2 separate regions of the Homo sapiens genome follow, and region 2 is linked to region 1. Evidence: fine-mapped expression QTL. A gene starts in region 1. The other region holds a variant in brackets. All regions are shown on one strand. Distances are from middle to middle.

Region 1 (5,384 bases):
TATCAACCATGAATTCTCAAAGATTATGACTGAATGTATGTACAGCCTTTCTGAACCTTGGGTTTCCAATATGGAAATGGTGTAAATAATTTTTGCCCCCTTATTACTTCATATAAAAAGTATGATGTATGAATTTGATCATTACTCACATAAACATTATCTTAACAATATCATGATAATGGTAATGTGTTTAAGCCTTATCATTGGCTTTTTTTAAATACCCTCCTGAGCTTTGTTTTACTCCCTATTAGCTTAAGTCAAAAGCAACGTTGTTACATACATGAGAATATCTTAGAATGTGTATGGCACATAGAAGCAATAAATTGAATAGCAACTTTTTTTTTTTTTTTTTTTGAGACAGAGTTTTGCTCTTGTTGCCCAGGCTGGAGTGCAATGGCACCATCTCGGCCTGAAACCTCCACCTCCCAGGTTCAAGCGATTCTCCTGCCTCAGCCTCCTGAGTAGCTGGGATTACAGGCGTGCGCTATCACGCCTGGCTAATTTTGTATTTTTAGTAGAGACAAGGTTTCTCTATGCTGGTCAGGCTGGTCCAAAACTCCCGACCTCAGGTGATTCGCCTGCCTCAGCCTCCCAAAGTGCTGGGATTACAGGCGTGAGCCACCGCGCCCTGCCCTGAATAACAACTTTTAAGGGCAAGTGGCAAGTGAGTTAATAGTCATACTTCCTATCCTCAGTTTCACCAGTACAACCCACTTTTTCTGGGGATGCAGTTACCACGAATTGGATTCCTTAAGAGTGGGACTGAAGGAATAGGTTAATTAAATATTATTATTGATCCTCTGTACATTTTTTTCCCTGTGTCAATTTCACTGTGTTTATTTTGTCAGATTTTCAGTGTTAGTATCTCTGTGCTCAAGCTTCCCTTGATCACAAAATGCTTCTCTTGGTCTTGGAGTTGAATATACTTTATGTCCCAGGGGGCTGAATATCAGAGTGGAAGTAAATAGCAACAATTTAGTTCTGTAGACCTTATCCCCTTTGTTCTCAAGATAGTGTATCTATCTTATAGGGCGTTTGTTCCTCTAAATTTTGTAAACCAACTAGACGCCTATCCTAGGTTACTCTCACTGACCTAACATTATAATAGCACTAAACACTTTGAACAGCACTTGATCTGTGTCAGCTGTTAAATATTATATACTTATTAACTCATTTACTCCTTATGACAACTCCATGAAGTAGGTGACTATTTTTATCCTCACTTTTACAGCTCAGCAGATAAAGATACAGAGAGGTTAAGTTACTGCAGAGGTTCACATAGGGAGTGGAACCATAAATCCAATCCGGGCAGTCTGGATCCAGAAGTTACCACCCTGGGTTATGCTACATCTTTTAAAGGACTCTCGAGACGCTGAAGGAAATTAGTCAAAAAATTTTTTAAAAGCAGAAAATGAAATTATATTGTCAATTGACTGGGAGAGGAGCAGTGAAAAGTTGTTGGCTGAGGTCACTGAGACAGGGCTGAGACCAGCAAGAAGGCAAACTGGTGAGCACATTACCGTACCTCACACCTGGTGTCTCTGGTGACTGAAGTTATTTGGAAGTGAATCTTCCATGTAAACCTGGGAGGTCGTCTGTAGCCCTTTTTTTTTCTCCTTAAGAAAATGTAATAGCGTAGTTGAACATTCATATTCTTAGCCTCCTTTGGGCTATACTTTTATTTTTTATACATAGTTTTAGAATTTACAAAATGCTCTTAAAATATCTCATTTCATTCTCACAACGACTCCGGACTGTACTCTTTTATCTTTTCACAACAAAGGCTCAGAGGAAGCGTAGCAACTAACTTGTCCAAGGTTTACGCCGGTTTCTAGGGGGCAGAGCTGGCGCTATCCACCCCGCCTGTATCTCCAAACCCGCTTCAGCCAGGAAATTTATCATGTGGTTTTAAATTTGCCTCTCAATATACAGAGGTACTGTCTTTACTCCAGTCCCGGATAAAGACCTTCTAGGTATGAATGATCTTTGTCTCCATATCTTTGCCTACCGGAGGGAGGAACCACCGTAAGCGGAGACTCCGGGCGGCGGCCGGCGGAAGGGCTGGGCGGGAGGCGTCGGGATGCCGGCAGGACCCTGCGCCCGAGGGGGTAGGGGGCTCGTGTCGGGGTTCCAGGCGCAGATTGATGGGGCCTAAGCAGGGAATGTGAGGGCGGGGAGGGCGTACAACGGAAGGGACTAATCTCGCGGTTTCGAGTTGGGAGCAAACCTCGCCCCCCACCCCCCCCATCCGTTTCCCTTTCTCAGTGAAGACGGTTTGGGGGCGGGTGGGGAGGCGCGTCCTCGGAGCGCCCTCGCGCTCCCTTTTCGCTCCCCGCGCGCGATCCATCGCCTCTCTTCCCCCGAGGCCAGCGATGGCTCGGGTGCGGGCGAGGAGCTGGGAGGGCGGCTCTCGACGCAGGTGTCAGATCCGCTCGGCAGTGCTCGGCGCGCTGGCCCGGCCCCCAGCTCCTCCGGCCGCCGCCCCCCGCCCGCCGCGCCGCGGCGCCAGGAGGGCGGGGCCGGGGCGCGCGCCGCTCCTCAGCAAGCGGGCGGGCGGCGTTCGGTCTGAGGGAGCGGGGCGGTCTCCGCCGGCGTCGCGCGCGCTGTGTGTGAGCGGGGTCGCGCGCGCGCGCGGCAGGCGAGTGAGGGAACGAGGAGCGGCCGGGTGTGAGTGTGTGGGAGTGAGAGTGTGTGGGAGTGGGGTGAGGGAGAAGCTGACGGGACGCGAGGCTGTGAGAAACTGGGCGAGTGTGCGAGGACGCCCGGCCAGCCTGCGGGAGCCGCAGTCGGCGGAGGAGAAAGGAGGCGGCTCCCGGTATCCCGACCCCCTCCCCCTCCTCTCCTTCCCCCACTTCCAGCCGCCCGGCGGCCCGCGCTTCCTCGAAGGCCCCAGCCCGGCTCAGTCGGCCGAGAGCGAGGGAGGAGCCCCCCGACCCAGGTGAGCGGTACGACCGCTGTTGCCCTCGGGTGTAGAGCAGTGAGGCGAAGGCGCGCCCTCCCGAGTGGGCGAGTTCAGCGGAATGGATCCCCCGATTAGCGGGGGCTGGGCCGGGGAGGGGACCGGCCCGAGCGCGCCCGGGGTCCGGGGCTAGTTGAGGCCGGTGGTCGCCGCTCCGCGGAGTCGGTGGGGAGCGAGGCGGGGCCCGGCCTTCGCGCGTGTGCCGGGAGGCGCCGGCCCGTGGCGTGTGCGTGCGACCGGGCGAGCCGTGTCGAGGGGGCGGCGACTTCGGGCGTGTAAGGAGTATGGTTTCCCCGCCGGCGAGGGGGTGTGGTAACCCCGGGAACGCCGGCTGGAGTCGGACCCGCGGGCTGCTGACCTGTCCTCGGGATTGCGGCGACACTCCCCCTCCCCCCCCTTCCCACAAATTCTATGGAGCGACCGCGGGAGGAGGATCACGTGGTGCGGTCCCGCAGCTACTGTATTCGATTCCACGTTTTCCTCCTTACGTGTAAATTTTAGAGAGTGTGACAGTCATTCCATCTTTTCCTTTGACAGTCTCTGAATGAGAAGGGGATGACCAAATAATTGCTTGTCCAGTTTTGATTCTTTAAAAATTTGAGCATGATGTAAATATTACACTACTTGCCCCTCACCCCCCCCCAAAAAAAACCCAAACCAGAGTGGTAATAATTTCAATCTCCCCTTATTAATATGTCCTTATCTCTGATCACACATTTGTTATTTCACTGTTTTATCCCATTTGTATTGGCGAATAGCGATGGGGTGGTAATTCTGTTCTGTGAGGGGTTATTGCACTAACCATGCTCAATGCAACTGCTATGTAAATTCTTTCAGTATGCTGTCATTTTCCCATTAGTTATATATATTGTTACCACATCTTTGTGGAGTTAGGTTCAACTCTAAATAGGTATAGAAAGTATATGGGCAGCCTACTATGCAGATTTTTTTTTGTGGGCTTGGTATGTTCATTATATTTATGGGTGTTCTTAATTATTAACTATAACCATTTAAATTGAAATGTTTTTAAATCTCATTTTTGTTACTTTCACAATATTGGGTACCTTAAAGGTCATTTCTTCTATTTTAAAAAATGATTTCTTAAAAGCAATTATGAGAATACTTTTAAGATATTCATTTGGAATAAAACACTCTCTGAAATTCCGGTCTCAGAGATTTAACATTTATTTCCTAAATTTTAGTATGCAACCCTCTAATTTTAAAAATAATCATAGTTAAATTTCTTTTCCAATGGTTACTGTTTTATTTGGTTAGTGTGTCAAAGGGGAGGAGGCCTATTTTGTCTTGAGGTAATCCTATTTTATTCTTTTCTATCTTGGTTAGTGCTGTTAATTTCCTTCTTTCATGTCATTGATTTAGTTGTTAGTTTGGCAACATGGCTGTTGATGTTTTTTATCTTTCTCTGTCTCCCTTTTTTCTCTCTTGTCTTCTCTTACCCCTACCAGGTGCTGGAGTCTGCTTGTCAGGGAGGGGGGCAGTCTGTGATTCTGAGAACAGAGCCAAGAAGGGGAACAGCAAATTCAGTCACAGACAATCCTCCACTCGGTCAAGAGCCACTTTTCTCTTCCTGCCTTGCCCCCCCGCAGGGGGTAAGGAACTGAGCGTTTAATCTTTAGCCGGTTGGCTACCAGCTAAAATTCTACTTATCTTAGTTTCTAGTGGATAGCTTTCTTATTTTGCCCATGTTTTCTTAGAATCCCTGTTTAATATACTTTTGTCAGTAGTAGTATCTAGGAGTAGCAGGGAGAGTGACAATAAATTAGCCCCTTCTTTTTTCCCTTGTCATTCAGGCCCCTTTTCCTCTCCAGAGGGAAATTACCAGTAAACTCTTCTAAATCTTCCACCCCTTCTCAGTCATACTGTGAAGAAACACACTAAAGTGGACATTATTTGACCAGTGAACACGAACCCAGCTTCAGGCATTGGTTTGTTGTGGCACATGGAGAAACATCTCTTTTAAAATATCTCCCAATTACCCTTTTCACAATTTGTATCCACCTAGGATTTGCTGCTGGGGTAAGTCACTAGATTTATTTCTCAAAGCTCCCCTCTCTATGAGCTGAAAGACTGACCAACCATGAACACTAGTAGGGGATGGGGAAAGGGGACAGAGCAGAGCCAGTTGTTCCACACTTTGGGAAGCAGGAGTAGCTTTTATCATCTTCCTCTGGGGAGCAGGCATAGAGACATAAACTGAGTGAAAATGGGTGGAGGAAGAACTTCTATACCCACGAACAACATGTGAAGAGAGAGAACCAAACATAAAGTAAGGAGGGTGAGTTTTATTGTATGTTGCTTGCTGACAACTGTTTTGGGGGCGCTTCAGTGATATACATTCATAGAAAGACTTTGTTTTATGGCAGATTAGTTTACAAAGAGTATTCTGCAAGTGGGATTAAGTCAC
Region 2 (5,384 bases), 72 kb after region 1:
ACTGCCCATGTCGAGAGCTGTATGCCTAAATTGGGAGAGACACCAGGGACAAGACTCTCTGGCTTCGTAGCCTAGGGGCCTAAGGACGCAGTGTAGAGCTTCCTTAGATCCCTTTGGAAATACAGCTTGCTAGAGGAAATGAAAGTCTGAATCATTAGTACCTAGGAGGCAGGGATCAGAGGAAGTAGATTCAGAGGTAAGGAGAATTTTGGGCTACACTTTCAAGAAAGTCGTGGTCGGGACCCAGAAGCTATGGGTCAGAAGGAAAAGTAGGGGTGTACGCATGGGCATCTGTTGAGTAGAGACTTCTGTCTGCGCCATGATCTCAACCGGCTAACACCAGGAGTTCGGGATGACAGCTTTCTGCTTCTAGTCGGCCCTCAGCTATCCCAGGAAAATTGAAAGCGGAAGCTGGTTCCAGGCAGACCAACGCTCCCAATCCAGAAGGTTTGGGTTTGTTAGAAAGCTCTTTCCCAGACAACCTCACACCTGAGTCTTAAGTCTGGCGGCCATGCTAATTATTTTTAACCAGCTGACAGGTGCCTGGTATTTTCCTCCAATTCTAAGGAAGGATAGGACAGAATAGCAAGCCAAAGTGGTTCAATATTATTCACTGCTTTGGAGGTCCCTTCGTGGTCACCAAAATGTTACCAGGGGGTCCTTGTGCCTAGAGTTCCCAAGATGGCGGCAGGGCCACTTCCAATATGGCGGCAGGCCTCTTGTTCTCTGACCTGGGGTTCTTGGCCTCAGGGATTCCAAGGAATGGAATCTTGGGCCATGTGGTGAGTGTTATAGCTCTATTAGAAGCCATGGGTCACGGAAGAGAACTGTGGAACCCAGCGACTACTGTTCAGCTCGATTAGGAAGAACCCAGGCACTTAGTTGTGCAGGAACAATGGCAAGCCTTTAGCCCGATCAGGAGCAGCAATGGGTGCCTCACTGGATCAGGAGCACAGAGGACATCCTGCTGGATCTGGAGGGGTGGAAGTCAACGGTGGGTCTGGGACAGTGGCAAACAGCAGTGATGGACAGTGAGCAAAAGCTCAGCTCGAGCCGTAACAAACACGGACCACAAGTGTGTGCAGTTGCATGATTTAATAGAGTGAAAACAGAGCTCCTGTACAAAGGGAGGGGACCCAAAGGGGGTTGCCTTAGAATGTTTTCATCTGTTTTTATAAGATTGGCCAATATTATTATTTTTAAAAAACTTTATCACATTTGATATTAAGGTTATGCTGGCTTTATTTAATGTATTGGGGAGTTTTCAGTCTTTTCCTAGGGCATTCTATATTGGTAAAGTAACATTGGAATAAAGGATAGCTAAGTAAAACTGAGCCGTGAACCTTTCTCATCCTAGTTCCTTTTGCAGTAATAGCTTTTATCACTTTCTGAAACCCTTCTGTAATAATTGCCCTGTTAAAGTTTGCCACTTCTGGGGGCGGTTTTGGAAATTTATCATTTGCTTGGAAAATGATACATTTCTTTTAGGTTTCCAGTTTTTTGCCAAAGAGTTTTGTGAGATATTTGCATATGCTGCTTTTAATCTCTGCTTTGTATGTGATTCTCTTTATTGTCATTCTTATTCTTGTCAAAATAGCTTTTGTATTTTTAAAAAATTCTATCTTTCTGTTGTATTCATTTTACTTTTTGTTTTCATTATATCTCTCTTCCTAGTTTCTTTGGCTAGAACACTTAGTTTCTTGTTTCAAAATGAAGGCAATTCATGTTAAACATCTTCCTCTGGAGAATTTTCACAGTGTTGGAAGGTATTAATACAAAGCATTTTTCTCTTTTATTTACAGTTGGTTCTCATTTTCCTTTGTGATTTCTTTGATCCAAGGGATCAGTTTTGCAACCTCAAAGTAGTTAATATTCTTTTGGCTACCTTTACCATTACCCTATTACCTTCTGATTTTCTTGACTTACTAATGTTGTCAGAGAATGTGGCCTGTAACATTTTTTTTTAATTTCATTAATTTTTTTTGGTGTGTGACTAGCATAATTGTTTTTTATATTTAACAAAGGAAAAAATGTATATATGGATATATACTCTGGTCAGGAGAAATAAAGCTGTGAAGTAAGTTTATTTTGCGTGTTTTCTATAAGCAGTATATAGCTAAGTTTTGTTTTTTATTCAAATCGGACTAGTTTCCATCTTTTAATGGAAGATTTGGTCCATTTTTTGTGTAATTACTAATATACTTAAAATTTCTTCCATCTTATTTTGTGTTTATTATTTAACTCAAATTGTTCCTTTTTCTTTTTCTTTTCTAATTTTTGCTGGTTAGTAAGGTACCATTTTATTTTCACTCCTGCCACCAAACCCAGTTAATTTGGGAGATCAACCAGGGTTTTGCATTCCATTAATGGTTACCTTCTATTTTCTTATGCTCATAATCAGACAGATTCTCTACAGTTACTTGAGAAGATAATTTTCCTTGATACTTTATTTACTACTTCACTGTATCATCATAATAATAATGAAGTCTTTGGAATACCTTTACTTTCCCCTGGTGTTCCTTGTTCCCTCTCCCCTCCAATGGGAATATTAGAACAATTTTATTTCCTTCCTACTCTTTCCACTTGATTGACTCATTTATTGAGTAAATAGTTTCAAGTACCTCCAAAGCGTCAAGTACTGTTGTAGCAATAATTTTTTTTTTTTTTTTGGGAGATGGAATTTTGCTCTTGTTGCCCAGGCTTGGAGTGCAATGGCATGATCTCAGCTCACTGCAACCCCCGCTTCCCGGGTTAAAGTGATTCTCCTATCTTGGCCTCCCACATGCAGGCACCTGCCACCACACCCAGCTAATTTTTGTATTTTTAGTAGAGACGGGGTTTCACCATGTTTGCCAGCCTGGTCTCTAACTCCTGACCTCAGGTGATCTGTTCGCCTCG[A/G]CCTCCCATAGTGCTGGGATTACAGGCATGAGCCACCGCGCCTGGCCTATTGTAGCAGTATTTTGTATATACTAGTGAACAAAACAGACAGAAATCCCTAGTCTCATTGACCTTATATTCCAGTTTTGCTGAAATCATCTAATAGTTTTAGTTCATCTGTTTGGAATTTGTTTTACTGTATGTCTCTTCTGTTTCATGAACCCTTATATAGCACTTTATCCATTCCCAGGCAGTCTGTCTTTATCCACTTAAAATGAATTATACCTATATTGCAAAGTACTCACCATGGTTTACTCCTCATATTCATCTTCCCATATCTTGAGATCTCTGTTAGCCATTTACTAGTATGTTAGTATCATTTCTTGATTATTTTTCCTGGTGGGCTATCAGAGTCATAGATACCCTCACATATTCTGTTAATACAAAAAATACACTCAAAGTGCTTTTTCTATTCTCTCATTCAACAACAATTCACATGGAACACTTATTTGACCACGTGTGGGGGATTTCTCTATTTGGAGATACCATCAGATCTGACAGGTTGAGGGCTCAGTCACCAGGAGTCACCAAGAATATCCCCAACTTCCCACCTCACCCCCTTCAGACACCAGTTGCAAGTCCAGGCCTACAGAACTTCTGACCAACTGGCTTCAAGTTGGGGTTCCCGTGACTTTCTGCTTAGGTTTGATTAATTTGCTACAGCAACTCACAGAACTCAAAGAACACTTACATTGTGTTATCTGTATATTATAAAGGATATTTCAAAGGATACAGGTGAAGAGATGCATAGGGCAAGGTATGGGAGAAAGGATATGGAGCTTCCATGCCCTCCCACGGCTTGCCACCCTTCAGGAGCCTCTACGTGTCCAGCTATCCAGAAGTTTTCTGAACCTTGCCCTTTTTGATATCCAATTGGATAGACATAATTGATAACCATGTAAAAATGTAATTGGACCAAAAGGGTATGATCTAACACTAGTAGACTGAGTAGGGAAACCCAGCAAGGCCTGTATGTTCAGATTCTTCTTGGCCTCTCTGTGCCACATTCCTTCCTCCAGGGTATGGGGCAGGACCTCATCTGGAATGAGGTCTTATGACCCACAATCAGAAAGGCTGTGAAAGATTAGAGTCCTGCTGTGGGGTAGGTGAAAGGAGGACAGGGGAAGGTTAGATTCTATTTTCTAAGGAAAGTGCCCCAACATTATAACAAAAGACTATAACAAGGGCTGTTGGAGTGATATGCCAGGAACTGTGGACAAAAACCAATATATAATTTAGATCAGAATATCACACATCTTTCTCCTTGGAAGAAGAATAATACTTTGTCTGAGATATAATTCTTATATTGTAAGAGTCTAGCTTCAATTCTACTGCCTTGAAGATTTTATTGTTGCAGTTTAATGTCCAAATCTACTCTCATTTTTTTCCTTTGTGGGTAATTTATTCTTTGTAAATTTTTTTAGTGGCGCTCACATTTTATTGGGATTTTGTAGATATATTTGTGTCTTATCAGTTCAACCTGGATTTTAGCTGTTTTAGTCAGCAGACTAAATTTCTTCCTTATACAGTTTTCTGGAAAATGTCTTCATTAATTATTGCCTCTCCATCTGTTTCTGTCCTTCTGAGGAATATTTTTCTGATTCAGTTCTCCAGTTTTGTTTTTGTTTTGTTTTGTTTTTGTTTTTGTTTTTGAGATGGAGTCTCGTTCTGTCGCCCAGGCTGGAGTGCAGTGGCACAATCTTGGCTCACAGCAACTTCCACCTCCTGGGTTCAAGCGATTCTTGTGCCTCAGCTTCCTGAGTAGCCGGAACTATAGGCGCCTGCCACCACACCGGGCTAATTTTTGTATTTTTAGTAGAAACGAGGTTTCACCATGTTGGCCAGGCTGGTCTTGAACTCCTGACCTCAAGTGATCCACCTCAGCCTCCCAAAGTGTTGGGATTACAGGCATGAGCCATCACAGCTGGCCCAAATTTTTTATCTTTATGATTTCACCTCACATTTTTAGCTATGCTTTGCATATTACTTGATTTTCTAAGTCAACTCTCAAAGCGACTGTACTCTCTTTGAGTTTCTCTATTGGATTTTTTAGTTGAGTAATCATGTTTTTGTTTTAACTTCAGAAAATCTTTTTGTGCTGAACTTGAATCTCCTTAAAGAGCTCTTATTTCTTTCATCAAAGTCATAGATGGATTATTATTGTTTTGTTTTTACATCAGGGCTCACTCAGCTTGGGTTATTTGTAGTATTCTACATGGCCTCAGTCTTAGAAGTGCTGTGAAGCAGAATCATTTAATTCACGGGCCAGTCTTCTACGGAGGTACCTAAAAGAAGCCTTTTGTTTCCTTGACTTCTTTATTCCTACAGCCTCAGTGGTAGGGAGGATCCACCTCACCTGTCCAGCTACTTCTGGCCTTTTTGGGGTCAAACACTACGGGTAAACTCACATGTCATCCTCACTCCTATGGATACACAGAGCTCTTGGA

What was found. PIP is the estimated chance that this variant, and not a neighbour inherited with it, causes the effect.
Region 2: its variant is the best candidate, but not a certain one, in a credible set for the expression of RIMKLB in whole blood (TOPMed, PIP 0.62).

The regions. Positions count from the first base shown.
Region 1 is chr12:8,695,360-8,700,743 of GRCh38, forward strand. RIMKLB (ribosomal modification protein rimK like family member B) reads left to right here and starts at 2,632. Exons shown (of 6, transcript NM_001297776.2): 1 at 2,632-2,938. RefSeq lists silencers at 2,437-2,536, 3,067-3,236 and an enhancer at 2,461-3,427.
Region 2 is chr12:8,767,318-8,772,701 of GRCh38, forward strand. All of the region lies in intron 5 of RIMKLB (ribosomal modification protein rimK like family member B), which reads left to right. Among named protein-coding and RNA genes, the nearest start is that of LINC02972, 18 kb to the right of the region's middle. RefSeq lists enhancers at 4,790-5,291, 5,292-5,384. The variant A/G (reference allele first, on the strand shown) is at 2,899.